Homo sapiens: one gene and its partners. The protein of the gene in region 4 purifies or fractionates together with the protein of the main gene of each other region. This does not show direct contact. Each region holds a gene or a part of one and is shown on either strand. Other genes may lie near its edges. The genes, in order: LARP1, G3BP1, PAIP1 and PABPC4.

Region 1 (7,720 bases), on a different chromosome or scaffold from region 4:
AGATATCACGAAACATATTTTATTACTAGTTACTGCATGTGTCCCTTAAAGAACTAAAACACCAACATTTGAGCCAAAAGTAAGGCTAAAAATAGGCATTTACAGCAAGCTTTGGAAAGCTTTTAGTTTGCTTATGAGGTACTCATTTCTGTAGACTCCCAAAAACATGTGCATCACAGAACACAAAAATTCCCAAGACCACACAGCCACTCCACTAGTGTCACGTTTAAATTTGTCGAAGCTGTAAATAAAACCAGGGCTGGAAAAGCACTTCAGAGATCCACGTAGGCTCCAGAGAAAGGGTCATCATCTAGCCTTACCAGACTGACAACCCAATCATAGAATTCTCTCTCAAAATGCACACAAACCCTAACAACAGGCTTAGAGAGAGAAGCTACTGGATTAACTTGAGTTAGGCTGTCAAAACCTATTCCAAAGGTTCTAAACCAACAAGTAGACACTCTCTTGCCTTAAGATTCCAAAAAACAATAACAGAGCAAATCTACCCTTACTCAGAATTTTGCTTTGGGCACTTAAAGCAAGTCAGCTTCTCCACTCAGAGGAAAAGGTGAGATGCCAGCCAAGCTGTCTTCTTCCCACGATCAATAACCCCAGTGACGCACACTATCAAGGGCTCCTGGACTTACACAAAATGCCAGCTCAGGCACCCAATACCACCTGATGTCACGGTTGATTTAAAACCCACAAGGTAGGTTCACCATTAGCCAAGCCAGGATGAGTAGCCCCATTTAAAAGGAGTGCTCTCTCCCGGGGATGATTATACCCTTTTGAGTTTAAAGAGGGGAGAAGGACCAAAGAGTGTTTTAAAGTTGTTTTCCTTCACTCTGTGGGTGGATAGGAGGGACTGAAAGAAAACGGAGGTTTCAGCACTGTCTTTTGCATAAAAGGGCTCTGGAAGGGAAAGGGGGGAAGGGGAGGAGGGGGGAAGGGGAGGAAGGGGGAAGGGGAGGAGGGGGGAAGGGGAGCAGGGGGGAAGGGGAGCAGGGGGGAAGGGGAGCAGGGGGGAAGGGGAGCAGGGGGGAAGGGGAGCAGGGGGGAAGGAAGAGAACACAGTATGAAGGACTGTTAGTAAACCCCAAATGTCCCCTCCTCCAAATGAAGCAACCTGAAAAGAAATAAAAATTGCAACATGCTGTTTTCAGGACTGGCTATTCTGGCTTCCCTAGGACTAGCAGTGCTTCTACTCCTTTGACGGTGAAGACATTAAGCTCCCCCTTTATTTTTGATGGTTTAAACCAGTTAGCCTCAACCAGCTACGGCAGGTGAGTTTTTTAAAAGCACCAGGGCTACGACCAGAGGCCATCATTCCAACTGCAAGACAATTTTAAAACCGACCCACCACAAACGGACCCAAAACCAAAGAATGGAGACCCGCCCTATACGCCGGCCGAGAGAGGAGAGTGGGCGCGCCCCCCCCACCCAAGCCGACGATCTATTCTCGGCAAAGGCAATGCAAGAGCAGACTCCATATTCTGCACCGCCTCTCCCCCCACGCTGACACGGCTCTGCTGGGATTTCCTGCACCCCTTACCTCCCCCCGGAAAGGGGCACGGTCCAAAAGGACCAAAACGCGGAGGAGGGAGAGGGAGGACTCGCGGAGCGCCGGTCGGCAGTCACATGCCGCTCCCCGCGCGGGGAGGCACCACGTTGTCCCGGCTGCAGAGGAATGCTGGGAAGGGGGGACGCGCACACACCCGCGCCGCGCACACGCACACTCGGGCCGCGCCGCGGGCCCGCACCCTCCTGCCACCCCCAGCGCCGCGGCCCGCACCGAACGCCGAGGCCGAGCGGCCCGCGGGCCGCCGGCGCGGCGCATGGCGCCCAACTGTCACCCGCCCGCCCAGGCCGGCCACTCCCTCCCCCGCCGCCACACGCCCCTCAAGTCGCCGCAGGCCCCTCACCCGCCTCACATTTTCCGCCAACCTCCTAACTGGCTCCCCCAGCACACTCGCCATCGGGCTCCTTCTTAAGGCGGAAGGTGCCCGGGATCGGGGAGGGAAACCACCGAATTCGATGACACGATGGGTTTCTTCTCCCCACAACTGACCCCTCAACCCGTCTCCAAATGGCGATTCTAAAGCCCAATTTCATCTCCCCGAGAACAAAACTTGTTAACTTTTAATCCCCGCATCCGTGCGGCCAGCATGTACTCCGCGCCGGGCACTGGGTTGCCCGTGACATATGCTCATTAAACATTTACAACATGGGGACGCTCGCAACGCTACCAAAACGGGGAGCGCCGGGCGGGGTGGGAAGAGGGGCTTCCAGAGGAAGGTTCAAACCAGAAACCGTCTCTTACACCAGCATGCGGTGGGGATCGTTTCACTGAAACCAGCGCCCACCCTCTGCCGACGAGGTAGGCCCGAACCACACCGTTGCCCACTAACCGCTGCGGCCCAGGCGGTGGCCGTAGCCTCCCGGAGGCCGGGCCCTCGGGCAGGGGCAGGTCCCTGAGTGTACGGTGGGGGGGAGGGCGCGGCGACCAGGATCAACCAGGAGGCAATTTTAAAAAGTCCCGAGTCACCATGACCGGTAGCAGACCCCGGGGCCCTGGAGGTGCTGGGGGAGGGGACTCCCATGTCCCCGGAAGAGGCCCCCGGACCCAGGAGGGCAAGGAGGGAGACCCACCTGGGGGGGACTGTCCGTTCACGGTGGTCAGGACCGGCGGCAATGCGTTCTTAGTCCACGGGTTCACCTTGGGCGGGGGGGCTTCCACGAAGTCCCGGCGCCCCGCGCCCGCGGCTCCGGCAGCTCCTCCGCCAGCGCCTGGCTCGCCGCCGCCCTCCTCCCCGTCGCTGATGGCCGGGCCTTCGGCGCCGGGCAGCTGCAGCGGCCGCGGGCTCTCGCGCTCCTGCTGCCCGGTGCCCTCCTTGTGCGGCTTGGCGCAGGGCGGCCGGGGTCTCCGAGCGCTGCCGTCCGGCTCCCCCCCGCGGACGTCGTTTGGCCCGGGCTCGCCCTTGCCCTCGGGCGCCGGCGGCGGCTTCTTCCTCACCAGCCCCCCGTGCTCTTCGGCCTGCAAGAGCGTGGCGCCCCCAGGCAGCAGCGGCTCCACCTGAGTGGCCATCTGCGCGCCCGCCCCCCCGGAGAAGCCGGGCGCGCCCGAGGCTGCCTCCCCCGCCTCGAACTTGGCTAGCAGAGCGCCCGCGACGCCTTCCTCCGGGGCGCTGGGCCCCAGTCCCTGCAGAGAAGGGTCGGGGTTCACGCGAGGTGCGGCCCCCTCCCAGTTAGATGCAGCCGCCGTAAATCCGAGGCCCACTAGCGGGGCGGGGGGGGAGGAAGGCCCCCCACTCTGCAGTCCAGGCCTCCTAGGCGTGCGTCCCCCCCCGCCCGTTCCTCGCAAGACGCCCCCACCCCGAGCCCGGCAGGCTTCTAGTCCCGTCCCTCCCTCCCCCCCGCCCCCGGGGCGGCCCGGGCTTCCCGGCTCGGGGGCTGCAGCAATATGGACGGACGGGGGAGAGGCGCGGCGAGCCAAGCAGACCACGCGATCCGCGGCAGGCGGCGGGCGGGCGCGCGCCTCACGACGCGGCGGGCGAGGGGAGGGGACGGCGCAGCGGGGGCGCGCCGCTGGCCGGGCCCTGGGCGACGGGCGGGCAGGAGGCGGCGGGACGGCGCGCGCACGGCTACGCGGTCCTGCCCCTCGCCCCGCCCCTCGTCTCCGATTCCTCAGAGCACCTCCCGGGCTGGGGGTAGGGACGCTCAGACCGGACGGGGGCGAGCACGTGCCTGATGCAATTCGGGAGTTGTCGGTGGGGGCGCTGACGGGGATAGGAGAGAAGGCTGGGCGAGGAGGGGAGGTATCTTAAAGGGCCAGCGCGTGAGAGCGGCCTCAGGTGGAGCACATGGGACCCGGCCACGCGGCCTGCCGGGCCTGCTCGTGCTCTTTAGGCTGGGTGTCAGATTCAGGGGAAGGAGCCATTAGTGTCATTCCTGACTTCTAGGAGGCCGAAGGGAGGACCCTCATCCGCCCCGAGGACGCGCCAACGCCGCCCCCTCCCCTGTGCCCGGCGGGCCTGGCCCCTTCGGTCCCCGCCCGGGTGACCTTGGTTGGGTGAGCCGTCCGCACCTCAGTGGGTTGTGCTCCGCGCCTCGCCGCCGCTGGGCCTGGCCTCGACACTACCCGGAGATGGGTTCAACTCCGGGCCTGGAAAGCGAGTCTTTAGCCCTTGCGGGCAGCCGGCGCCTAGGAAGTGGGAACGGAATTACTAAAGCCCTCACCCAGGCCAGGCCCTTCTCCCCGCCGCGAAACCTTGTATTTATGGGCAGGAAATGTCTTTTCTTTCAAGTGGATGTCGTTTTTTTTCTAAAGAATTGCTTTGGGCGGAGTTGAACCGTCCCTGGATTGGGACTTCTGAGATCTGAGATTTTATCCTGGCCCTGCCCCCTTACCATCTCTGCAGCAGTGACTTCCAGCTTCGTGGGCCTCAGTTTCTCTATTGTAAAATGAAGGAGCAGTGTATGACAGCAGTTTCAAACTTCAGTGTACATTCGATTCAATACTTACTGACCTCGTACTGTGGGGGCCTTGCAGGGTTCTAGGAAACGGGTTTGGTATAAACTAGGCTAACAAAGTCCCTATCCTCATGGAATTTATTCTAAGGTGGGGAAAGAGACAATAAACAAGTAATAAATTATTGTCTAGTATCTATGAAGACAATAGTTAAACTGTGGTAATCAGTTAGACTAGATGGGCTACTTTTGTTTGGGTGATAAGGGAAGACTTCTTTGAACGCAGATGCCAAAGTATTAGGAATCAGGCTCGGTCTGGGACTGGACCCAGAAATCTGCGTGTCTAGCAAGATCCCTTTGGTGCTTATGACTTCACTTGGAGAAGTCCTGGCTTCTGACTGGCTGTGATCCCACGTGCTCACATAACATAACAGCCTGGAATGTTGGCCATCTCCAAAACAAGAATTAGAGCACACGACCTGCTGGATCTAGGAGAAGACTGAATGAAAAGCCTCTTGGAACTGCCCCAGCCAGCAAAGCTGAGCTGTAGGATTGTTGTAACCAGTATGGGGGAGAAGTACTGGTAGGGATAGCCAGGTAATGCCATGTCTACTTCCAACTCTTGGGTTATTCAGCCTCCAAGCCTTGGCCAGCTAGCCGCACTTCCCTGGACCCCTCTCCTGGTGGAAAAATGGGGGTAAATAATGCCTGACTTGCTTCCACCCTCTGAGCTCATGTGAAGGTCAAGTGAGACAATGTTAGTCAAGGTGCTGTGTAAATTTTATAGACAAGCCAGTACGTCAAAAGAGCTACCAAGGAAGGTAATGTTACTCAATGAATTAAACCAGGAATCTACTAAGTTCATTACATGTACTCTTAATCAGAAGGTAAATTATTGCACATTGCCACTGAAATGCACTATTTATTTATTTGAAGAGATGAGGTCTGTCACCCAGGCTGGAGTGCAGTCATTGTGATCATGGCTCACTGCAGCTTCAAACTCCTGGGCTCAAGCCATCCTCCTACCTCAGCCTTCGAAGTAGCTAGGACCACTGGCACGTGCCACCATGCACAGCTTTATTTTTACAAATTTATTGATAAGTAATCCCTGAAGAGATTATTCACTCTAGACCCTCTCTAAACTTTGTTAATAGGGGACATAATTATTATTGTTAGTTGTTCTTTTTGTAATTGGAGGTAGAGAAGTACCCTCCCCTGACCCCTGAGAACTCGTGAGGGTACGAGGGCACTGTGTGGACAAGAAACTCGTTCATGCTACTCAGCAGTCAGAAACAGGGTTGAACAAGCATGGCCAGGCCCTGCTGTGTAGAGGGTGGAGGGGTACTGAGATCTGCCTACCCTGGGCCTGCTCTGCCCCAGAGAGAGACAAACTAGGGCCAGAGAAAGTAAGAGACCTGTGTGAAACAACATCTTTTTTTTTTTGACTCTTACTCTGTCGCCCAGGCTGGAGTGCAGTGGTGGGATCTCAGCTCACTGCAACCTCCGCCTCCCGGGTTCAAGCAATTCTTCTGCCTCAGCCTCCTGAGTAGCTGGAATTACAGGCGCCCGCCACCATGCCCAGCTAATTTTTGTATTTTTAGTAGTGATGGGGTTTCACCATAATGGCCAGGCTAGTCTCAAACTCCTGACCTCAGGTGATCTGCCCACCTCAGCTTCCCAAAGTGCTGGGATTACAAGTGTTAGCCACCATGCCCGGCCGAGACAACATCTTAGGCTTAGAAGCTGTTAGAACTGGAAAAAGGAATCATAATGATTACTCATTCTCCTTGTTTTGCAGATGAAGAAACCAAAGTTCAGAAAAGTGAAGTCCAAGGCCGGGCACAGTGGCTCAAACCTGTAATCCCGGCACTTTGGGAGGCTGAGGCAGGCAGATCACCTGAGGTCATGAGTTCAAGACCAGCCTGGCCAACATGGCGAAACACTGTCTGTACTAAAAATACAAAAATTAGCTGGGCATGGTGGCGCACACCTGTAATCCAAGCTACTCAGGAGGCTGAGGCATGAAAATTGCTTGAACCCAGGTGGCGGAGGTTGCAGTAAGCCGAGATCACCCCACTGCACTCCATCCTAGGTGACAGAGCAAAACTCCATCTCAAAAAAAGAAAAGAAAAGAAAAAGGAAGAAAAAGAAAAGTAAAGTTCCTTATCCAAAGTCACACAGCAGAGCCAGACAGAGCTAGGTCTCATACCTGAATCTCTTTATCCTAAATCCAGTAGTTTTTTCTACATTAAAATAATGAAACTGGGGCTGGGCATAGTGACTCACACCTGTAATCCTAACACTTTGAAAGGCCAAAGCAGGAGGATCACTTGAACCTAGGAGTTAGAGATCAGCCTGGACAACACAGTGAGACCCTGTCTCTATTTTTTTTAAGTTTTAATAAAAAAATGATGGAATTGGGATTTGAATTCAGGTTTTTTTGATTCCTAACCAACTATGGTATTTTATATGCATATATTTCTAAATACAGTCATCCTCCCTTATCCCAGTGCATGCCTGAAACCCCAAATAGTACCAAACTCTATATATACTATGTTTTTCCTATATATACTTACCTATAATAAAGTTTAATATATAAATTAGGCACAGTAAGAGATAAACAACAATAAATAATAAAATAGAACAATTATAACCATAGACAGTAATAAAATTTATGTGACTGTGCTCTTTCTCTCTCAAAACATCTTATTGTATGTAATATTTTCTGACCACAGTTGGCCACAGGTAACTGAAACATCAGGAAGCAAAACCACAGATAAGAGGGGACTAGTAATGACCAAATAGTCAGTAATGACCATTTAGTAATGACCAAATAGTCAGGAGTAATGACCAAATAGTCAGGAGTAGCTACTTTTATTGGGTAACTAGTGTACGCTAGGTTCTATGGGAAATACTTGATATTCATTATCTCATTTAATCTTCATAATAACCCAGTGGGATAGTTATTATTTCCTTAAATGTCTACTGAGCCCCTACTATGTGCCAGGCACTACAGGCTAGGTCCTGGAATGGTTATTGTCTTCAAATTACAAAGGAAGGCAATTGAAATTCAGAAAAGAAAGTAAGGTGGGTACTCAGCATCATAGGCAGCAGCTAACTATCAGAGTGGGGTTTTTCAGGGTGTTCTATATCGCCAGGCCTTATTCTTACTCACTGCACCACTCTGTACAGCCTACTTCTCTTCCCTCCATTGCCATATCCATAAGTATTTATGGAGAATCCCTCAAATACT
Region 2 (7,829 bases), on a different chromosome or scaffold from region 4:
AAAATTATTAACTATAAAGAAGAAAACCATTTCTACATCCCACTCTCTTGTGTCACCTGGATGGATATTTTCCTTATTTTCCTAGAGATTAAAATGGAGAATTTCCTAAAGGAGTTAAAAAAAAAAATCCCAAGCATTTAACATAAAACTGTATCTACCTTTTGGATGAACTACAGTTGAGCCTTCAACAAGGTGAGAATTAGGGGCATGGATAGCCCAGAGTTGAAAATCTGTGTATAACTTGACTCCTCAAAATTTTAACTACTAATAGCACACTGGTGATCAGAAGCTTTACCAATAATATAACCAATCATTTAACTATTTGTAGGTTATATACTGTATTCTTACAATAAAGCTAAAGAAAATAAGAAAATCATTTGCAAAATACATTTTCAGTATTGTATATGTTTATGCTGTCTGTTTAAAAGACAAATCGTCTCTCTGAAATGACAGGTAACCACAGCTGCACACCTCAACCTATGGTACAGATCAAGCAATTTAATATTTCCTTGTAATGTCATAACTTTTCTGTTTCTTGGGAGTGCTTTCAGCATCATTAGTGATATTTCGTATGGGTCCCATGGTGTTATTCAAGGCTTTCAGTATTGTACTAAACATGATGAAAACTACTCATTGAAGAGAAATCACTTTTTACTGCATCCAAATTTACTGGAGAGAAGAACTGCTCACATAAAGATGATTAGCATCACACAGTGTTGTAAGCAGATACTTGCAACACAAGCACATTGCAATATTTACAGGAGGTGGCTAGGAAAAAAATTATAGTACAGTATATACTAAAGTTCATTTTATGCAGTTATAACTTAATACTGTATCTTTACATTTGTTTACATTTCTCTTGACTGCAAATGGTGCCCTGAATGGTCTCAAAGTGTTTGTGTGGGTTCATTTTGATAAATTTTAACTCTGTAATAAATCTGTAATAGACTTGTGTATATTTTACAGTAGTAAATAACAGTATCCACATATATTTTATGCATTCATGAAATACCTTTTTCTTAATTTTTTTTATTATTTCTAGGCTATTCAGTTTGTGAGCTTTTTCAAATTGTTACAAATCTCCAAAAAAAATTTTCCAATATATTCATTGAAAAAAATCTGCTCAAGTGGACCTGAGCAGTTCATACCCACGTTTGTTCATGGTTCAACTGTACTACATTAACTTTCAAATTTTCCACTTGATCCCAAGTTTCCAGATTGCAAAGCAACTTCAAAGAAACTCCCCATCAATAATTGTGCTGAAGTTAACAGAAAAATGTTAAGGGTCTAAAGAACTATGAGCATTATCAGCCAGGCGCGGTGGCTCACACCTGTAATCCCAGCACTTTAGGAAGCCAAGGTGGGCGATCATGAGGCCAGGAGATAGAGACCATCCTGGCTAATGCGGTAAAACCCCGTCTCTACTAAAAATACAAAAAAACTGGCCAGGCATGGTGGTGGGCGCCTGTAGTCCCAGCAACTCAGGAGGCTGAGGCAGGAGAACAGAGTGAACCCGGGAGGCGGAGCTCTTGCAATGAGCCAAGATCGCACCACCGCACTCCAGCCTAGGCGAATGAGCAAGACTCCATCAGCTAGCGGCGGAGGGGGAAATAACTATGAGCATTATCCTCCAATTTTTAACAGACGGGCAGGGAAACATAAAGGCAGCCCATACTCCACCTGCATTTTTAATGGCAAAGCTCACTCCAACAAAATAAAAAGTAGCCAAATGCCTTCATAGCCCATTTTCAGTGCCAGTTTTATAGTAAGAAAATATAATATCATATAATAAAAGATTAGTAGAATGTATATAAACCTGCATACAAATCACTAAAAGAGTAACCCAAGAGAAAAACAGGCAAATGAAATGGAGCAGCCAATTCTCAGGAAAGTACTAAATGGACAGCAAACAAAACAGAGTAAGTAACCAGGAAAATGCAATTAATAAAATCACTTCTCACAGGAGATACCTTACAAGAGATGCGCCAAAGTATTAAAATCTCAGTCAACACCAAACATTGGCAACCAAGTAAAAAAAAGAGCCTACAGGACTGCTGAAGATGAAGTCTCAACTGGTACAACCACAGTGGAGAACAATTTTGCACTATCTAATAAAATCAAAAACACTCTGATGAAAATCTAGCAGTTCTCTTCTAGGTACATATACAAAAGAAACTCACCCAAGACAAAACAAACTCACACAAGACAAAAACAAATAACTGCCACCCTATCTGTAAAGTATAACATTGATAACAATCTACATGTCCATCAAATAAGGAATGGATATTAAGTTGTGGTTTATTCACATTAGGGAAACTTCTATACCTAAGACAACCATATGAGAGCACTTTTAAGATTGAAAACAACTACTATTAATAGTGTCAGGTTAACTGAAGTGAATCAGGACTGTCCCTGGCAAACCAAGACATATGTCACCCTATTTATGCCTGCCAGAAAGCGAGCACATAACTCAAAAACATTATTAAAAAGAAAAATCAGTTGCCAAATATGTACTGTGTGATAACGTTACATATATTTAAAAGTGTTTTTAGTATACACAAATACCAGATACCGTACATAGATACACAGGCTAGACATAAAGAGACAAATGGATCCATGAAACAGAATGGAGTTCACTAACATATCCACATGGACAACTATATTTCCAAGAAAAGTGCAAAGACAATTCAGTGGAAAAAGTATACTCTCTTCAACAACTGGTACTGAAACAATTAGATATCATATGGAAAAAACAAAAAAAAACCAGAACCTCAATTCATGTCTCACACCACATACAAAATTTAACTCAAAATGATTCAGTGTAATCAAAGTGTAAAACCCAAAACTGAACTTCTAAAGAAAACTTGCATGACACTAAGCAAAGATTTTAGACACACCAAAAGCAAATGAAGAAGAAAGCGAATTGATCACGTAGACTGCCTCAAAATTAAAACCATCTGCCCTGCAAAGACACCATCAAAAGAATGAAAAGGCACGCAGGCAAGCCACAGATTAGGAGTAAATATTTGCAAGGCATTTACCTGATTGATTGACTGACTGATTTTTTTTTTTTTAGAAGGAATCTTCCACTGTCGCCCAGGCTGGAGTGCAGTGGCGCTCACCGCAACCTCCACCTCCCAGGTTCAAGCAATTCTCATGCCTCAGTTTCTCAAGCAGCTGGGATTACAAGCACACACCACCACGCCCGACTAATTTTTGTATTTTTAGTAGAGATGAGGGTTCACCATGTTGCCCAGGCTGGTCTCGAACCCCTGGCCTCAAGTGATCCACCTGCCTCGGCCTCCCAAAGTGCTGGGATTACAGGTGTGAGCCACTGCGCCTGACCCATATCTCTAATTTTTAAAATACCTCTATCCAGAATATATAAAGTACTCTCATGCCTGTAATCCCAGCACTTTGGGAGGCCGAGGAGGGCATATCACCCGAAGTCAGTAGTTCGAGACTAGCTTGGCCAACATGGTGAAACCCCATCTCTACTAAAAATACAAAAATTAGCCGGGTGTGGTGGTGGATACCTGTAATCCCAGCTACTCAGGAGGCTGAGACAGGAGAATCACCTAAACCCAGGAGGCAGAGGTTGTAGTGAGCAGAGATGGCGCCACTGCACTCCAGCCCGGGCAACAAGAGCGAAACACTGTCTCAAAACAAAAAAATTAATAATTAAGTAACCAATCCCATAAAATATGAGCAAAAGACTTAAAGATATTTCGCCAAAGAAATTATATGAATGCCAAATGAAAAATGCTGATCACTAGCAATTACAGAAATGCAAATTAAAACCTGTGAGGTACCACTAAACACCTGTCACAATGACTAAAATTAAAAAGACTGACCATACACACTGTTAGCCAACATACTGGCAGAACTGGAACCCCCCAAACATCGCTGGTGGCAATGTAAAATGGTACAACCACTGTGGAAAACAGGGAGTTTCTTTAAAAGTTAGGCATACATCTACTACATGATCTAAACATTCCCCTATTAAGCATTTACCCAAGAGAAATAAAGGCGTATACCCATACAAAGACTTGTACACAAAGTTCAGAAGCTTTATTTGTAACAGTCAAAAAGCTGGAAACACACAGCTTCTGCCGTTTTTCAATGCCCACCAACAGGTAAACCAAAAAATTGTGATATGCCTACACAACAGACTAGCACTGAGCAATTAAAAAAAGAACATAATGTATTTACAAAAAAATTCTAAAAAACGCAAAGTAATCTACAGTGATAAAAAGATCAAGGATTTCCTGCAGGGAGAAGGGTGGAAGGAACAAGCAAGAAAGAGGGAAAAGGGACATGAGAAAACTTTTGGGGGTAATGGATAGGTTCACAATCTTGATTGTGGTGATGGTTTCATGGGTATACCTTCTTTTAAGAGTCTCCTGTGTCGCCCAGGCTGGAGTGCAGTAGCATGACCATAGGTCACTGCAGCCTCAAACATCTGGGCTCAAGTAATCCTCTCTGCTGCCTCAGTCTTTTGAGAAGCTGGGATTACAAAAGGTGTCTGAAATTATCAGGCAGTACATTTTAAAAACATGCAGTTTATTGTCAATTATACCTCAATAAAGCTATTTTTAAAAATTCCCCATCAATAAAACAGCCTGGAAAGATGTGAAAAAGATCCCTGGAAGGAAGGGAATGGAAGCCCGTATAGAAAAAAAGGAGTCTTAGAGGGCAATGCAAAATGTCAAATGTTAATTCTGAGTACGATAGTATTTAAGTGGTCTTTTTACTTTAAAAAAGTTGTCAAAAACACCAAGGAAAAACAGCAAGTGTTTGTGTGTACTAACTTGAGAATATATTAAATTTTTGTAAATTTTGTTTCAGGATTATGTCATGTATTCAAACATTTGATATCTGGTTCTCTAAATCGTGGGAATTTAGAAACAAAATCTTTTCCCAGAACTGGAGTAACATGAATACAGAAGCCAACATCTGTGCTCAGAGCAAGAAAAGTATCAACATCACTGGGCCTACTGTCAATCTATTTTTCCAAACTCTTCGCATTTACCACCTGTCACCTCCCTTCACAATTCTTCCTGACGCCTCCTTGGAGAAATGGTTGATTCTGGACCTGAGACAGGCAAAATGCAAGATGAGCCTGAAATACCTGGTAATTAATGAAAGAAAAAACATGCTTTTAAAAAACAGATAAGATAGGGAAGTGTCAAAAGGACAAAGGAGCCAAAAAAAAAAAAAAAAGCTGGAACAACATGAACAACAAAATAAACTGTGGCCAGCACAGTGGCTCACACCTGTAATCCCAGCACTTTGAGAGGCCAAGACAAGAGGATTGCTTGAGCCCAGGAGTGTGAGACAGCCTGGACGATATTTTATAAAAATATAAAATAAATAATAATCAAAAATAAGTAAACATCAGCAAGGATAATTGTGGATTACAACCCAAAGAATAAAATTAATATCCGTGGTCTATAGTGATATAAATGAAAAAAAGAAAAAACATGAAGAATACACAAATCTTCCTCACAGAAAATTTATACTGTAGAAGGAATGAGGAAAATAAAAAAAATCACCATTAGAACCCCGAAGTAATAATAGCTGCAGACGAGATCCATTAAAATGCTAAAATTAAGGAGGGGAACTTTATTTCCATGGCTTCGAAGCATCTCCCCCAAAATAATAACAGTAGCTTTAATATACTTCCACAAATTCACATTCTCCTCCCTCTAGAAAGTAGAGCCTAATTCCCCTCTCTCCTTGAGTGTGAGCTGGACTTGGTGACTAGCATCTAAGGAATAGTATCTAAAGGGGAAAAAAACACTAACCTGACAGATACCACCTGAACCAAATCATCAGGTTAAATTCAACCAGTTATATATTATGGACCCCCAATCTGATGTGATAAGGGTAATTTCTGTGGTATTCTTCCCCCAAAAATCTGTAACTTCAGTCTAATCCTTAACATCAAATCCAAATGAGATCAAGTGTCATGGTCACGAAAGACAAAAGGAAAGACAGAAACTGACACAGATCAGGAGACTACATACAATGTGGCATCTTGGACTGGATCCTAGAACAGAAAAAGGACATTAGTAGAAAAACTAAGGAAATCCAAATAAAGTCTTTCATTAACAGTATTTTATCGATGTTAATTTCTCAGTTCTGTTAAATGTACTTGGATTACATAAGATGTTAACAGTGGATAATGGGTATTCAAGACCTCTCTATTGCAACTCTTCCACAAATCTTACTTTATCTCAAAAATACTGTTTTCCTGAAAGAAAAAAAACTTCAGGAATCAGAATACTTAACAACTATCTTTTATCTTAGTGTATCCCTTCCCCACTCCAAAGTTAAAACCTACTCAGGTTCACAATTTAAAAAAATCTTTGTTCTTTCTCATCACGTGAAAAGATATGTTACAGTTAATACTAATGCTCATCCGCAAAATTCTTAAACAGATCAAGACAGGTGGATACACTCCAGGGAAATCTAGGCAACCTCAGTGCAGAAACAAGGGTGTACTTAAGGCACAGCCTATGGCTTTGCATAAACAGCATATGGGAGAAGCCTGCAAGGGCAGGCAGGTGTCACATTCATACATTCCAGATTCAAAATCCCTCTAAGATTTTTCAATTAAGGAAATAAGCTGGCTATAGTACCCTATTAGGTACCACATGCTTTTCAAAATAGTTTTGACAATTCGGTTTCAGAGCTCCAATTCACTTTTTAGTAAAAGTATGGTAATACCAAAGATGTGTGAAAGCACTCTCTAAATATGCAAAAGGTTACACAAATACATAATGATGCTTTATATAGCCAGTGAAGTTAATAGCCACCAAAGATTACATCCCTACTAAGTAGATGTGTATACCATCCAGGAAGCCAAATTTCTGTCAATCATCTTTAATCTTTACTTTTGATTAAGTACCTAAGATACAACACACATACCAAGAACTTATTACATGACAGACTGGCCACCTGACAGAAGAGGGACTCTATCACAAAGTCGCCTAAAGACCTTATTTACTAAGCTACAGGCTGTGAGGGCAATTTTTTTGAAATTGCTTTCCACCTTGTAAGACAGAATATTAAGACACTATTCGTGTGTGTGAATTATTCCTACTCTTAACCCTATCACCTGGCTTGCAACTTGACCTTCCCAACTAAAGACAGACAGGATGTCCAAGAATACTTTTTTAAAAAAAGTAAATAGCTGATTTCTGAGATATAAAATTATAAACCTAGTGTGCCACCACATTGTGATCACCAACTACATGTAAGATAATAGTTGCTGAATCTAAATTCAACTCCAGGGCTTGTACTGGAGTACTGGAAGGGCAGTACTGCACTACCAGAGATTTTTCCCACTTGCTTTTGACAAATTACTGGGGGGCGGGCGAGGCTTTCCTTTTTTTTTTTGACCTACCTACTTCCACAATTATCCATTCTTCTTTGTAAAGTCAGTAATAGTTTCGTCCAAGGAAGCCAAAGCACAATATAATTAAACAAACATACAATGCCTATTTAAATTCTGAAAGTTAAAAAAAAAATCAATTTGCAAAATGTTAAAAGACCAAGTGGGCAGTTTTATCAGACTGACAAAAATAAAGAAAAAAAATATAAAATTGGCTTTAGTCACAAATGTAAGCTTTATGTTAAATTTTATCTTTTAACACTAGCCCCATCAGTCCTAAGGACGATATAAAATTCACAAACTTTTACAAAAACTTAAAACTGCCTTCTGCCGTTCACTTTCTATGCAAAATACTAGAACGAGTGGGAAAAAAAAAAACCATAAGTTACAAAAGAAAAACTGCTCTAAGTAGGTCACAAACAAACATTAC
Region 3 (7,829 bases), on a different chromosome or scaffold from region 4:
TATTGATAAGGTGAGAAAACTCTGGGAAAGTAACTTGCTTCACAAAACTGGTTTTGACAGTTTTCCTTTTCAAGACAAAGGGAAAAGCTATGGGTACTGAATGGTTTCCACGCAGCCAGTTTAGGTTGACTTTGTAAACAATTTTTAACAAAGAAAAAATAAATTACCTCTTGTTCAGTAATTGACTCTGGGTCAGTTTGCCAACCACGAAACCCCAGCACAGCTTACTGTGCTTACGTGGCCAATTCCAATGTTTACGAGGTATATTAACTGAGCAACATCTTCTGTTTAAGTCAAATGTGGTAAGATATTTGTTATCATCTTGTACATATTAAATTCCTCATCAGAAAAAAGTTGGGATATTTATAGATAGTACATTCTGGTTAATAATGGAAGAGATCAGTTAATTAATGCCAAATCAGTTATTTAAAAACACCTGTTGGCTGCTTTTCTGTTACAACTTTGTCGGTAAGAGTTGATGAAATAACTTTTTTTTTCATAAAATGCTATGACAGACTGTACGTTAGGATATGATTATGTACATGCAAACAAATACCTACATAATTGACTAGGTGAAAAGTCAAATTTTTAAGCTAAAGATTTTCAATTATAAAAGCAATGTATGTTTATTTTGGAAAGGTTAAAACAGAAAAAGTATAAAGAACAAAGTCACCTGCACTACTACTAAAAACAAGAGATAACTGCTGTGAAGGTAACTTCCGTTCCATCTTTTTCAAAGTATGTATATATTTTTTAAAGAGGTAGCAGAATTATGCTTTGCTTTTTACTTGTTAGCTCACTAGTATTTCTCTACATTATTATTGACAGGATTACAGTACTACAGAAGCACATATGGTGGGTAACAGTCAATGAGAAGAGTGGGTCTCAATCATAGCTATACAGTAGAATCACTTGGGAAGCTTTAAAAAACCATGTCCTAGCTCCACCTCGTCTAATTACACCAGAATTTCAAAGGGTTCAGACAGGATCTCGGCTTTAAGTATCTAGGTAACTCTAAGGCACAGCCGGGGGTGAGAAGCACTGAAAAATATGAGTGAGCATTCCTGGCGTCCTACCGCCTACAAGTACCCACTCTGAATCTTTACAGAAGCTATAATTTGTGTTTCTTTAATTATAAGTATGGTTAGATATCTTTTTATAACTTTGACATTTGTATTTTTCCAAACTGTATCTATATCTATTTGGCGCTATTCCAAGTATTTTCATTATTATTATTATTTTTGATACGGAGTCTGGCTGTCACCCAGGCTGGAGTGCAGTGGCGCGATCTCTGCTCACTGCAAGCTCCGCCTCCCGGGTTCACGCCATTCTCCTGCCTCAGCCTCCCAAGTAGCTGGGACTAAAGGTACCCGCCACCACGCCCAGCTTTTTTTTTTTTTTTTGTATTTTTAGGGTTTTTTTTTGTTATTTTAGTAAAGATGAGGTTTCACCATGTTAGCCAGGATGGCCTCAATCTCCTGAACTCGTGAGCCGCCCACCTCAGCCTCCCAAAGTACTGGGATTACAGGCATGAGCCACTGTGCCCCACCTATCATTTCACTTTTAATAAGTCTCTGACATATTTGGGATTTCAGCACAGAGAGTGAGATGGGAACTCATCTTTTTTTCCCAAATGACTATCCAGTTATGCTACCAGCACAATTTATCCTTTTTATCAAAAGCTTGAATTTTCAAGGGTCTCTGGGGTCTACTTCTAGAATCTTTATTCTGTTCCACTGCAGTTTAACCACACAATGGAATGCTTTGCAATCATTAAAAGTCACTTAAAAAACTAATGGACGAACTATAATAAACTTGAAGATAACCTTGTTACTGAAGACATCAAATTATAAGAAAACTAGTTTTCTCTAAATTAGCTTATAAATTGAGTATTATCTCCAAAATATCTAACATACTAGCAAGACTTGTGTAATTTCAAACACTGATTCTAAAGTTCATTAGACGAAACAAGCATAGCAAAGAATATTTGACAGGCTGGGCGTGGTGGCTCACGCCTGTAATCCCAGCACTTTGGGAGGCTGAGGTGGGCGGATCACTTGAGGTCAGGAGTTCGAGACCAGCCTGGCCAACATGGTGAACCCCATCTCTACTAAAAATACAAAAATTAGCTGGGCATGGTGGTACGCACCCATCATCCCAGCTACTGGGGAGGCTGAGGCACGAGAATCGCTTGAGCCTCAGAGGTAGAGGTTGCAGTGAGCCAAGACTGAGCCACTGCACTCCAGCCTGGGTGACAGAGCAAGACTCGGTCTCGGAAAAAAAAAAAAAAATCCCACAAAAGAACAAAAAACTAATTACCCTAAGATATTTTTAAAAATGATAGCTTTTGGCAGTGCAGGGTGGCTCATGCCTGTAATCCCAGCACTTTGGGAGGCTGAGGTGGGTGGATCACATGAGATCAGGAGTTTGAGACCAGCCTAGCCAACATGGTGAAACCCGTCTCTACTAAAAATACAAAAATTAGCCGGGCATGGTGGCGGGTGCCTGTAGTCCCAGCTACTGGGTAGGCTGAGGCAGGAAAATCACTTGAACCTGTGGGAGGCAGAGGTTGCAGTGAGCCAAGAGCGTGCCGCTGCACTCCAGCCTGGGAGACAAAGTGAGACTCCATCTCAAAAAAAAAAAAAAAAAGCTTTTTAATAGCTATTGTATGAATTGTATGGTAATAAAAAGGAACAGAATAAGTGATAAATGGAATGAAAATCCAGAATCAAAACCCAAATAATGCAAGTGTGATAAAAGTGGCAATTCAAATCAATAAGGAAAAATGGATTATTCACTTTTATTCTAATCTAAATAAAATTAGATCCTTATTCAAACCAAAGCTACCAAAGTAATAAGAATTACATAAGTGTTTATTTTTAAGATCTTGGAAAAGGAAAGATCTTTCTAAACACAAAACCAAATTCACAGACCATTACAGAAAAAAGACTGGTATACTGAACTATAAACTTCAAATATAATGCACATAAGAATAGGCTGCCCTATTCTTTCCTGCAGCTTTTTATAATATATGGTCTGAGGAATGGTCAAATTCTAGTATATTTAGAAGTAGTTTTCCTTTAATTTCACATTTACACTGACCTTTGAAGTAGCAATTGGCGGAAGTTGCCACTCTGTGGGCTAATTGTCAGATGATGGGACAGGTAATTACACAGGCGAGCTCCCATATAAGAGAAATTTGGGATAGATGTGGCCTTTTAAAAAGAAGAAAAGTGTTATATGACATAGGTACATCATTATTAATGTAAATACTTAACAGCAACATTCTAAAGAAGAAAAAATTGACTCCCCAAACTGACCATATATACAAGTCTTTTGTCATTGTTAGGCTTAAGGAAATTAAATTCACTTTCCCTCCCAACCTTACAGCAAGAACCACAATAAGTACAAAAAAAAAAAAAAAAAGAAAAAACCCATCAGTTACCTGAGGCTACCAGAAAGCGAAGAGATAATGTCTCCTGATGCTAACCCATTTTTTGCAGAAAACCTGTACATGTCCTCAACTGCACAGTGACAATTATGAATGAGAATACTGCCAAACTGTTGACCAGTGGGGCTTCTTGGGGCAGGAAAGCACAGACTTTTTAGTGTTTGGCAGTCCAGGACAAGATTCCCTGGCATTTTGCTTCATGACTTTGGACATCAGTAAACCTCCCTGAGCTTCAGTTAGACTTTAAAGAGGTGATTAATGGTAACTGGCACAAGCAACTAACACTTAAACACTCCAAGAATGATTGGGTAAAGGGGAAATGAAAACAGCTAAGCTACTTAAAAACAGAAAAAAAAAAAAGTAAGAAAACACTACACATCAAAGATTGTTGATATAACTGAAGCAGTGTTCAGCAAGTTTAACTTTAATTGCAATTTCTAAAGAATAGTAGAGAACATAGTTTACCATCTAATATTAGGTAAGAAAACACACATTAAAAGGTTAAGAAGTCGGGCACAGTGGCTCATGCCTGTATTCCTAGTACTCTGGAAGGCCAAGGCCAGAGGATCGCTTGAGGCCATGAGTTCAAGACCAGCCTAGTCAACACAGTGTGACCACCATCTCTATAAAAAAATTTTAAAATTAGCTGGGCACGGTAGCATGCACCGTAGTCCCAGCTACTCTGGAGGCTGAGGTGGAAGGATCACTTGAGTGTAGGAGTTCAAGGCTGCAGTGAGCTGTGGTCACGCCACTGCACTCTAGTCTGGGTGACAAAACAAAGCCCCCATCTTTTTAAAAAAAAAAAAAAAAAAAAAAAAAAAGCTAAGGGACTTGGCCACAAATGTAATTGAACATAGAATCTAGATCTAACAAATGTCCTGCTACCCCTCTGACTCTATATGTTGGGTCTACTTACTAACTTTTATTTCTAATTATTTCCTTGCTCACATGGGGCCAGTATATGTCACATTAAGGGAGAAAGAGTGATTTCTCCTGACATCATGTATGTTTAGCTGGTACCCAAGACTTGGTTCACCCTTACATTTTTCCCATTATTGGCACTGCATGTTTTCCTTTAGCTTCTTTTTAGTGTTATAACACGATTTAAAGACAAGTTCTATAAGGCTTGTCATTCAACAGTTTCCTACTTACATCCCGGTTTTACTCCCAAAGACAACCACTTTTGACTTCTTCAGCCAAAAATGTTTTAATCCCCATATCTCCGCACTACGTAATTTTTCAGTTTAGATGTTATTTCTTACTGCAACTTGAGCATCCCTGTCCAAAAATCTAAAATCCTCCAAAAACAGAAAATATGAGTGTCCACATAATGCCAAAAGTGGAAAATTCCACACCTGACCTCATGTGACAGGTCAGTCAAAACACAGGTGTACAACACATAATTTATTCAGCATCCCCAAAGGAAAAAAGACCCTGTCAACCCCCTTCAGCTGTAATATACTTAGGTACCCTCCCTGAGGTGTCTCATTATATACTGGATATGCTAAATCTGAAAAAATCCATCTGAAATGCTTGAAATCTCAAGCATTTCAGATACGGGATACTCAACTTACAGTTTCCCATCATGGAAGATGAGCTTTTAGCTTTCACCCTGCTTAATTTCACCCCACTCTACTATTTCCTCCTATCACAGTATGGTTATGATTTTATTCATTTGCTGTGTTTTCATTTATAGCTGAACCATGTATTACACTGCTTTTACTTTTGCACAACTTTGTCTTCCCTAGATTCAGTTTTTACTACACTTTTATATTCTTCTCATTGATTTATCCCTAAACTCACTACTCTGTAAATTTCTTCTTATGTCTTACAGCATGTGTGCTCATCTTATTACGGAAGTCTTTCCTGGAGCCTTCTGACCTAGTCCAGTGAAGCCTGGCTGCTTCAGACCTACTATGCATGCTGCTATTGTTTTGAGATCTCCTTTGAACCATCATCTGGACAGTTCACTTAGTCTCTCCTGTAGAGTTCCTTTTCCTGGTTCCCATGTCTTCATCCGTGGCATAACTCCTCTTTTTGACAGAGTACGTCCTTTGTTAATTTCATAAGAAGGGTTACAACAAAATTTCAAACCGGCTGTTCAGTGTAAAAAGATCTGGATGGTCTAACTTTTTAGATTCTCAAGCAATCCTTTTAGCCTCATTCCATCCTTATTTTAGAACCTTTTAGGTTTTGCACTGTAAGTCATGGTGATTCTCAGCTTTACCACCACTGGCTTGGAATTCAACGTTAGATCTGCCAAATCAGGTACCACTCACCCACCTGCTTTCTAGTCTTCAAAACTAGTGCTTTTCTTTTCCTCTTCTCTGTCCCTATGAGCTTCCGCCTTTTAAAAATCCCCATAGCATCATTTTAGTGGTGTTTGGGAGATATCAGAGTTGAATGTGTATTTAATCTGTCATTTTTTTTTTTTTTGATTCAGAGTTTCGCTCGTTGCCCAAGCTGGAGTGCAGTGGCGCAATCTCGGCTCACTGCAACCTCCGCCTCCCGGGTTCAAGCGATTCTCCTGCCTCAGCCTCCCGAGTAGCTGGGATCACAGGCATGCACCACCAAGCCCAGCTAATTTTGTATTTTTTTTTAGTAGAGACAGGGTTTCTCCATGTTGGTCAGGCTGGTCTTGAACTCCTGACCTCAGGTGATCCACCCGCCTCGGCCTCCCAAAGTGCTGGGATTACAGACATGAGCCACTGCGCCTGGCCTAATCTGTCATCTTTTGTAATACTTCCTCGTTTGTTAGTTGCTATGAGTAAATTTCCATAAATTACCTCAATGAAACTTAGCAGCTATTGATAAACCTATGCATCATTGATCATAGAATATTAAAACATTAAACATACTGACTACATATTTGACAATCAGAGAAATAGTTGACGCTTATCAGGTTACTGACCCTTTGTCCAGCCCTGAATAAGTATAATTACGCAGCCTACTGAATAACTGAAACTAAATAGTGGAGGAAGCCAGAAAGGCAACAAGAAATAAATACATTTGTTTCATTTTCTTATCTCATATTCCTTTTCAATCCATTTATCAGCAGAAAGCAGAAATGAGGACAAACAGTGCAGTTCTGTCTTCCTAACATCTCAGGTACTTCCTCAAAACTGACAGTTGGCTAGGTAATCTTGGGGTCCAGTAACCATCCAGAATAACTTGGAAAAGCAGCCAAATGAAACATTAGGATAGAAAATAATCATTAATTTGCATTATAATCTCCCTTCCATATATTCCAAATTTGAGTTGCTCTTGTAACAGTGACTTAAAGAACCTAAAGTTTACATTTCTGATCATGGCCCATTTTTTTTGACCAGTCTCACACTGACTAAGAAATTTTGTGTTAAGCCAGTGTTGTCTACTGTATTTTTCACTTTTAAAATAGCATTAATGAGGCCAGGTGCAGCGGCTCATGTCTGTAAAATCCCAGCATTTTGGGAGACCAAGGCAAGCAGATCACTTGCGGTCAGGAGTTCGAGACCAGCCCGGTCAACACGGTGGAACCCTGTCTCTATCAAAAATACAAAAATTAGCTGGGCATGGTGGTGCACACCTGTAATCTCAGCTACCTGGGAGACTGACGCAGGAGAATCGCTTGAACCCGGGAGACGGAGGTCGCAGGGAGCTGAGACTGCGCCACTGCACTCCAGCCTGGGAGACAGGGCAAGACTCCATATCAAAAAAAAAAAAAAAAAAAAAAAAAAAGCGTTAATATGTTAATGACCAATATGCTGGGATAAAAACTAAATGTTGTATAATGAAACAATTTCAACTGACTAAATTAGACTTTCAAGGAATTAAGATGAAATCCTTAAATTTTAAAAGAAAGCAAAGGCAAGTAGAAATGCTAAGACAAGACATTTTATGGTTTGGCTTTCTTTTTTTTAAAGACCTACTTATGAGGCAAGCAAATTCTCTCAATTTTTTTCCTCCCCTACTCTAATACTACTATTCAATTCAACACATAGGGGAAAAGAATTGCAGTCTTTTCTGGTACTGCTAATTTCAGAGCCTGCAAAACAAGGGGCAGGGTTTTGGTGGGGGTGACACTTATGTAGCCTTCGTTTTCAGTGCCCATATCACCTTCTATACTATACTGCTTGTATAGAGCTTTGGCTAAACAGGTGAATATTACCTATATTGAATCTTGACTACACATGTGAACTTGCAATCCTGTCTGGCTCTACCCTTGGATCCCTAACTATAGGAGTTTTATACAAGACAGACTTAGAACTCCCGGAAACTATAAAGAGTAAGTGTGGAGGCAGGTGATCATGAATCTGGTCTCCCTCAAGGAGTAGCCACTATCCTTGGGCTTCAAGGAAGCTATCTGAAGGTCACTGCATGCTATAAGCCAACATACCTG
Region 4 (8,772 bases):
AGTCATCAAAATGGACACAACTGATCACACATGGAAAAGTTCTCTGTACTATCACAAGGATAAAACCACCATACCTTCTGCCTAAGTAGACAGTGCGCAGATGGCAGGCCCTGCACCCACCTTTTGAAGCCTTAATGGAAGTTCTGTAGAATTCTAGGACTTCAGCTACCCTGGGTGCTCAACCAACTTCCCCATCCAACACCTTGGAATGCTTCCTTAGCTTCCCAACCAAGTCCGTGTGTACACCAGAGACAATTTAAAGAACCAAAGGCTGGGCTGGGTATGGTGGCTCACTCCTGTAATCCCAGCACTTTGGGAGGCCAAGGCGGGTGGATTACCTGAGGTCAGGAGTTCGAGACCAGCCTGACCAACATGGTGAAAACCCCATCTCTACTAAAAATACACAATTAGCTGGGCATGGTGGCGGGTGCCTGTAATCCCAGCTACTCAGGAGACTGAGGCAGGAAAATTGTTTGGACCCAGGAGTCAGAGGTTGCAGTGAGCTGAGATCGCGCCATTGCACTCCAGCCTGGGCAGCAAGAGTGAAACAGTGTCTCAAAACAAACAACAACAAAAAGAACCAAAAGCTAAAAAATAACACCACCTGCCAGCCAAAACACTTCTCATCACTAATCGCAACAAGGATGCCCAGATCTGGTGGCCACTTTTCCTTAAGGCTATGATGGCATCTCCTAACGGTGACATCACCCAGAACCTCCTCCATGAGGGGATTTAGACAGGGTCAGAGCAGTGGAACCTGCTCCTTGCCTCAGGACAACATCTCACTTAAAGGGGGGACAAAATTCCCCAACTCTGCCGCTCCACAAGCTCAACTGTTTCATTAGCCGGGAGAATTTATTTTCACTCATTATTTCCAACAACTTTCCCCACCCCCTTCAGAAGGTGGGCCTCATCTGTGTGGGGGGTAGTTGGGAAAAGGGGAGATGACAAGACCGATCCAAGTCAGGAACAGTCCAGGGAAAGAGGACTTTGCTTGTGATGGCTATCAGAGATAGATAGCTGGGATCGCAAACTATTTCATTAATTAGCAGTAAAGGAGCCCACTTCAACAACAGCTCCTCGTCTATTTCCAGACAGCACTGCACAAGGCAAGCCGGCTTAGTCTGACAAATCTGGCTGCACTTATTTATAGCAGGGAGAAGTCCTGCAGAAGTATGTGTTGGCAGACACACTGACCAATAGCTTCTGCTATCTCTAAGTGACACGACTTTTGTTCAAAAGTCAGTAAGGCAGACAACAGCTAATGTGGTACATTATCCCTTAAAAAGACCACACTCAGCTACCTTTGCGCTCCTATGGCCATGGACAGAACTCAGCTTGGAGCACACTGGATTGACAGTAGCAATACCTAGTCCCTCTCAACATGTCCAATTCTCTGGTCTCAGCCGCAACCTGGGCAGGTAGTAACTCTGGGCCTCAGACAGAAAACAAAGGGGGGACCCCAAAACTAGGGACCTGGAGATGCTTTGCCATAGAATGGCTTGTTTCTCCCAGTAATGATCTCTGCAGTTGTTCCCTTTTAATCTGGAGTCACGTGCAGCCTCTGATCAGGTTTCCTCTGGCCTCCCTCCTGCCACGCCTGCAGCATACCTCTCTCCATGCTCCACGCTAAGGCCACAATCTGAGGTGGCAGAGCACTGTGCTGGGAGTCCTAACTTGGCTTCCAACTTTTTGCATTCGTTCTCCTTCTCAGGAGTCCCATTTTCTTCAGATTAGATGAAATAAAAGGGCTCTGACTAGTGCAAAGCACTGTTACAGCTGAGGTGACAAATGACACCAGATTTTCAAGTGACGCTTCCCTAAACTACCTCCACGACACTCTACAGCACAGAGCCTGGATACCATTTGTCCAGAGTAAAGCACTTCTCCACTCCAGTGGCAAACACACAGACCAAGGAGGTGGCCTGGCACACGCAGCTTTTGTGGCACTAACCTAAGTCTCTGCGAAAGTTTAACGCACAGAAACCTTCCCCCTGCTTCCTGCCTGCCCTGACTGATCCTTTATCAGCACAACATCAGGTAGTCAAGGTTAGTAAAGGTGGCGGAGCGGGCAGGAGCTTTACAATGTAAAACTTTCGCGGGGAATTGTGTTTCAAACGTCCCGCCTTTTTGGCCAGCCTGTGAGGGGCACAAGCAAGGATCTCTAACAGCCCAGCCCCACTGACAAGGACCACACGCAGTGGAATGCCAGTGGCTTCACTCTAATCCTGTTTTACAGTCTCCTTGGTTTCCAACCCCACTACCAGCAACACTAATAAGTAGCCCAAGGTCACCCAGTTAGCAAGTGGTAGAAACAAGATTGAAACTCGAGTCATCTGATGCCAGGTCCGCGTTCTCAATCTCCGCACCCTGCTCCCAGCTTCGGTGGCAACATGCTGTCGTGATGCCGCCCTCCTCGGCAGGAGGGCCCTGCCAGAAGACGACTCCCGGGGTCCTCCGGGCTCCCACGCACGTGTGGGCACAGCTTCTACTCACCGTCGGCCGGCTGCTGGAAGTTGACGTAGGCATAGCCCAGGGAGCGGCGGGTGATCATATCGCGGCAGACCCGGATGGACAGCACAGGCCCCGCGGGGCTGAACTTTTCGTACAGCATGGCCTCGGTGACGTCCGAATGCAGGTCGCCCACGTACAGGGAGGCCATGGGGTAGCTGCTGGCCGCAGCGTTCATCTCCCCGCCCCCCACCACCCCGAGCCCCGCCAGGAGGACTTCTTATCGGGCCCGCCGCAGGACAAAGGGGCGCCTTCGGAGCCCGGGCCCGCGCCGCGGCTCACAGGTGGCACCGGCGCGGCGAGGACGAGCTGGAGTCGGCGGGCTTGGAGACGGGACGGAAACGGGAGGCGGGGGCCGGCTCCCACGGCCGCAGCACCGCAGACAAAAGGCTCTCCGCACAATACGGCCCTCCCCGCGACTTTGCACTTCTCCGCGGTCCTGGTGCGAAGCTCCAAATTTCAAAAAATCAAAGTAGGAAAAAAATTAAACGGGGAATCCCCTTCCGAAGGGTAAAAATCCTTTAAGAGGCGACCGGACGCTGCCCACGGCGGCCTCGGGGACACGCGTTTCTCTATAAATATAGGCCTCGGGCTCCGGCGGTTTAAGATTACAACCGCCGGGGCAGAGGGAAACCAAATCTTTGTGGGCGCCGACTCGGCGAGCCCCGGGCGGGCGGCGAAGGGCAGCACGGACACGTGGTGCGCCGGGGCAGGCGCGGGGCGCGGGGCTCGGGGCCCGAGCGGGGGGAGGGCACGGCGGGCCGGGCGGGCGGCTCACCCCCGGACCGACGGACGGAGACCGACGGACGCCAAGCGCTGCGGCGGCGGGCGCGGGGCAGGCCGGAAGCGTACGAAAGTGACTTCCCCGCGGGTTCTCCGAGGATTCGTTTTTTCTTTTCCTTTTTTTTTTTCAGGATTTTGAAGCGTTTTCAGATTTTTTTTATCTTTTTCTCTTTTTTTCCTCAGGCTGCGAAGCCCGAAAGCGGCGGAGGCGGCAGCGACCCGGGGCGGAGAGAGGCGGCCGAGGGAGCCACCGCTCCATTTATACCCGCCCGCCCCGGGCGCTGCTGGTCGAAGGGCGCCTCGCGACCTGGGCGCAGTCGTGCCCGCCCACTCGGCCCGGGGGCCCGAGGCGGGGCGGCCACGCGAGAGCGACCCGGCGCGGCCGCGCGGCGCTACAGCGACCCCTGGCGCCGGGAGGACCGCCCAGCTCGCGGCTGCGGGAGACCCCAGGGCCCCTTTCTATAACAAATAAATCTTAACACCCTCCCACCCATCACCCGGGAATGGAACCTAGGAGCCATTTAACCTGCACACACGCATGAGGTTTAAAATTAAATGGTATGGGGCTGGGTGCAGTGGCTCACGCCTGTAATCCCAGCACTTTGGGAGGCCGAGGCGGATGGATCATGGAGGTCAGGAGATCGAGACCATCCTGGCTAACGCGGTGAAACCCCGTCTCTACTAAAAATACAAAACATTAGCCGGGCGTGGTGGCATGCGCCTGTAGTCCTAGCTACTCGGGAGGCTGAGCAGGAGAATAGCTTGAACCCGGGAGGCGGAGGTCGCGGTGAGCCAAGATCGTGCCACTGCACTCCATCCAGCCTGGGCAACAGAGTGAGACTCCCTCTCAAAAAAAAAAAAATTAAATGGTATGCCAAATTGTGAAATGAAGGTGACATAAAATAAGTTAAAATAAAATAATAGGTGGTCCAATAGGTAAATGTCTGGGTCCAAATACAATAAAGATTTGAGAAGTTTTCAGGATACCGTTGACCTAGAGGTAGAATCGTCAGGAACTAGAAATGCAAGCAGTATCCATGGGTGATGGGATTTTCTGAAAAGATGAGCACATTTTGGTAAAGCTTCAATGAAACCAAACACAAGCATCCCCTCTATTGACATGCTGGTGGCATTCCCGGACATTTAGTTTGTGTTTAAGGGCACAGAAATACTTTCTGTTCCTATGTTTAAAGTTTCTTCTAGGCTTGGATAATTATAAAAAGACTTTTCATCTGCATGAGAGTCTGGCAGGTCATTTGAAAGTCGTATCACAGGCCAGGCGTGGTGGCTCACGCCTGTAATCCCAGCACTTTGGGAGGCCGAGGCGGGCGGATCACTGAGGTCGAGAGTTCGAGACCAGCATGACCAACATGAAGAAACCCCCGTCTCTCCTAAAAATACAAAAAGTAGCCAGACATGGGGGTGCATGCCTGTAATCCCAGCTACTCAGGCGGCTAAAGCAGAAGAATCGCTTGAACCCGGCAGGCAGAGGTTGTGGTGAGCTGAGATCATGCCATTGCACTCTAGCCTGGGCAACAAGAGCGAAACTCCGTCTCAAAAAAAAAAAAGTCATATCACTTTATAGGACTATGTTATATGGGACTGTCCACACGCATTACAAGATATATAGCATCCCTTCTTCCATAAGTGCCAGGAACCACCTTTGCCATCACTGTGAAAACCAAAAACAGAAATTGCCAAAAGACACAGACATCCCCCTTCAAAAGCACTGATTTAAGTAAATGACTAAAGAAATATGTGTATTTATATATTAATTAATTCAAATAAATGGTTAATCTGAGCCTACTCTATGCCAATGTCAATACAGGGGCTGGAGATACCATGGTGGACCAGAAGTCACTCCCTCTCTCATGGAGTTTATATTCTAATAACTATATTAAATCAAGAAACATTGGCTGGGCACGATGGCTCACACCTGTAATCCCAGCACTTTGGCAGGCTGAGGTGAGCGGATCACCTGAGGTCAGGAGTTCGAGACCAGCCTGGCCAACATGGTGAAACCCCATCTCTACTAAAAATACAAAATTAGCCGGGCATGATGGCACGTGCCTATAGTCCCAGCTACTTGGAAGGCTGAGGCAGGAGAATCGCTGGAACCCAGGAGGCAGCGGTTGCAGTAAGCTGAGATCATGCTACTGCACTCCAGCCTGGGTGACAGAGCGAGACTCCGTCTCAAAAAAAAAGGAACATTTATGGGAGTGCTCCTTCTATAGATTCCCTCCTCAGGAAAGTCTTCCTAGACCTCCTGTGGTCTAAAGTAGCCGTCAACATTGTTAATCACTATCACACCAACTTGTCTTCTTGTCTTCAAGCCTGTTATTCCTACCCAAAATTATGTTGTTCTATATCTGTTTACCTGTTTAGTATCTATCTTTTCCACATTGGTATATAAGCTTCATGAGAACAGGAATCTAGAATAGTGCTTAACATAGCACGTACTAAATGTTCAGTAACTGGCCAGGCAGGTGGCTCACACCTATACTCTCAGTGCTTTGGGAGGCTGAGGCAGGAGGATCGCTTGAGCCCAGACATTTGAAACCAGCCTGGGCAACAGAGTGAGACCCTATCTCTACAAAAAAAAATTTTCTTTTAATTGGCTGGGTGTGGGGACACATGCCTGTGGTCTCAGCTACTTGGGAGTCTGAGGTAGGAGGATCGCTTGAGGCCAGGAGTTGAAGGCTGTAGTGAGCTATGATCATGTCGCTGCACTCCAGGCTGAGCAACAGAGTGAGACTCTGTTACTAAAAAATAAATAGATAAATAAATATTCAATATATGTTTGTGTGTGTGTGTGTGTGTGTGTGTGTGTGTGTGTGTGTTTTCTTGTTTTTTTTGTGGGGGGGGTATGAAATCTTCCTCTGTCACCGAGGCTGGAGTGCAGTGGTGCAGTCTCGGCTCACTGCAACCTCTGCCTCCCAGGTTCAAGCAATTCTCATGCCTCAGCCTCCCAAGTAGCTGGGATTGCAGGCATGCGCCACCACACCTGGCTATTTTTTTTTTTGAAACCAACTCTCGCTCTATTGGCAGGCTGGAGTGCAGTACTGCGATCTAGGCTCACTGCAACTTCCGCCTCCCGGATTCAAGCAATTCTCCTGCCTCAGCCTCCCGAGTAGCTGGGACTACAGGTGCGTGCCACCACACCTGGCTAATTTTTGTATTTTTAGTAGAGATGGGGTTTCACCATGTTGGCCAGGATGGTCTCAATCTCTTGACCTTGTAATCTGCCCGCCTCGGCCTCCCAAAGTGCTGGGATTACAGGGGTGAGCCACCACGCCCAGCCTTTTTTTTTTTTTTTTTTTTTTTGAGACAGAGACTTGCTCTGTCACCCAGGCTGGAGTGCAGTGGCGTGATGTCGGCTCACTGCAACCGCCACCTCCCGGATTCAAGTGATTCTCCTGCCTCAGCCTCCCAAGTAGCTGGAATTACAGGCACCCACCACTATGCCCAGCTACTTTTTGTATTTTCAGTAGAGATGGGATTTCACCATGTTGCCCAGGCTGGTCTCCGACTGCTGACCTCAGGTGATGTATTCGTCTCGGCTTCCCCAAGTGCTGGGATTACAGGCGTGAGCCACACACCCAGCCTGTGTATTTTTTTTTTTGTTTTTTTGTTTTTTTTGAGACTGGGTCTCGCTCTGTTGCCCAGGCTGGAGTGCAGTGGCGCGATCTTGGCTCACTGCAAGCTCTGCCTCCCGGGTTCACGCCATTCTCCTGCCTCAGCCTCCCGAGTAGCTGGGACCACAGGTGCCCACTACCACGCCCGGCTAATTTTTTGTATTTTTTAGTAAAGATGGGGTTTCACTGTGCTAGCCAGGATGGTCTTGATCTCCTGACCTCGTGATCCGCCCACCTTGGCCTCCCAAAGTGCTGGGATTACAGGCATGAGCCACTGCATGTATTTTTTTTTAAGCAACAAAGTCTCACTGTGTTGCCCAGGCTGGAGTGCAGTGGCCTGATCATAGCTCACTGCAGCCTCAAACTCCTGACCTCAAGCGATCCACTTTGGCTTCTTAAAGTGTTGGGATTACAGGCATAAACCACTGCACCTGGCCTAAATATTTGTTAAATAAACAAATGAATACTAGGCACAGATGAGCAAAACCCACACAAGCTCTGACCTCCTGAAGCTTATTGTCTATTGGGGGAGCTTATTACCTATATTACTTTGGGCAAGCTAGTTCACATCTCTGACCCTCAAATTTCTCATCTGAACTATACTAATAAACCTTATTAACAATTAAAAGGGTTATTGTGAGAATAAATGAATACATATAAATACACATAAATTGTTTGGATTAATTTTTTTTTTGAGATGTCTCACTTTGTCGCCCAGGCTGGAATGCAGTGGTGCGATCTCAGCTCACTGCAACCTCTGCCTCTCAGGTTCAAGCGATTCTCCTGCCTCAGCCTCCCTAGTAGCTGGGACTACAGGCATACATCGCCACACTGGGCTAATTTTTTGTATTTTAGTAGAGACAGGTTTTCACAATGTTGCCCAGCCTGGTTGCGAACTCCTGAGCTCAGGCAATCCGCCCCCACCTCAGTCTCCCAAAGTGTTGGGATTACAGGTGTAAGCCACCATGTGCCCAGCCTTGGATGAATGTTAATAGCTATTACTATCAAGCTACATTTGTACTAAGAAAGGAGGCGGAGGCCGGGCGCGGTGGCTCACGCCTGTAATCCCAGCACTTTGGGAGGCTGAGGCAGGCAGATCACCTGAGGTCAGGAGTTCGATACCAGACTGACGGACATGGAGAAACCCCATCTCTACTAAAAAAACAAAATTAGCCAGGCGTGGTGGTGCATGCCTGTAATCCTAGCTACTCCAGAGGCTGAGGCTGGAGAATCACTTGAACCGGGGAGGTGGAGGTTGCGGTGAGCCGAGATTGCGCCATTGCACTCCAGCCTGGGCAACAGGAGTGAAACTCTGTCTCAAAAAAAAAAAAAAAAAGTAAAATAAAAAGAAAGGAGGGGAGTCCCTAAATGAAGTCAGGGAGAACAGCATCTATAAAGGCCCTAAGTGCCAGGCGTGGTGGCTGCCGCCTGTAATTGCCTGTAATTCCAGCACTTTGGGAGGCCAAGGAGAGCAGATCACCTGAGGTCAGGAGTTTGAGACCAGCCTGACCAACATGGTAAAACCCCGTCTCTACTAAAAATAGAAAATTAGCCGGATGTGGTGGCAGGTGCCTATAATCCCAGCTACTTGGGAGGCTGAGGGAGGAGAATCATGTGAATCCGGGAGGCAGAGGTTGCAGTGAGCCAAGGTTGTGCCACTGCACTCCAGCCTGGGCGACTGAGAGAGACTCTGTCTGAAAAAAAAAAAAAAGCCCTAAGGGAGACAAACTGTGGAGTTGTGGGAAATGAAAGAGATGGCCTTAAAACACTTAGGATTTTATCCTCAGATCAAAGAGTAAAGCTGCAGGATTTTAAGAGCAAAGTGCCTTCGCTCAAATTACTT

Evidence for each region.
Region 1: the proteins of PABPC4 (region 4) and LARP1 purify together in Homo sapiens (affinity purification with mass spectrometry; 3 studies listed by BioGRID and IntAct, with this or other methods). This does not show direct contact.
Region 2: the proteins of PABPC4 (region 4) and G3BP1 purify together in Homo sapiens (affinity purification with mass spectrometry; 4 studies listed by BioGRID and IntAct, with this or other methods). This does not show direct contact.
Region 3: the proteins of PABPC4 (region 4) and PAIP1 purify together in Homo sapiens (co-immunoprecipitation; 3 studies listed by BioGRID and IntAct, with this or other methods). This does not show direct contact.

Annotation. Positions count from the first base shown.
Region 1 is NC_000005.10:154,751,123-154,758,842, reverse strand, and holds the start of LARP1 (la-related protein 1), read right to left. Parts: upstream 3,467-7,720; 5' UTR 3,086-3,466; coding exon 2,650-3,085; exon of another isoform or gene 2,321-2,649; intron 1,690-2,320; exon of another isoform or gene 1,553-1,689; intron 1-1,552. UniProt on the Homo sapiens protein: RNA-binding protein that regulates the translation of specific target mRNA species downstream of the mTORC1 complex, in function of growth signals and nutrient availability.
Region 2 is NC_000005.10:151,774,292-151,782,120, reverse strand, and holds part of G3BP1 (ras GTPase-activating protein-binding protein 1), read right to left. Parts: intron 1-7,829. UniProt on the Homo sapiens protein: Protein involved in various processes, such as stress granule formation and innate immunity. Plays an essential role in stress granule formation.
Region 3 is NC_000005.10:43,539,902-43,547,730, forward strand, and holds part of PAIP1 (polyadenylate-binding protein-interacting protein 1), read right to left. Parts: coding exon 7,827-7,829; intron 3,216-7,826; coding exon 3,103-3,215; intron 1-3,102. UniProt on the Homo sapiens protein: Acts as a coactivator in the regulation of translation initiation of poly(A)-containing mRNAs. Its stimulatory activity on translation is mediated via its action on PABPC1. Competes with PAIP2 for binding to PABPC1.
Region 4 is NC_000001.11:39,573,263-39,582,034, forward strand, and holds the start of PABPC4 (polyadenylate-binding protein 4), read right to left. Parts: upstream 3,529-8,772; 5' UTR 2,690-3,528; coding exon 2,497-2,689; intron 1-2,496.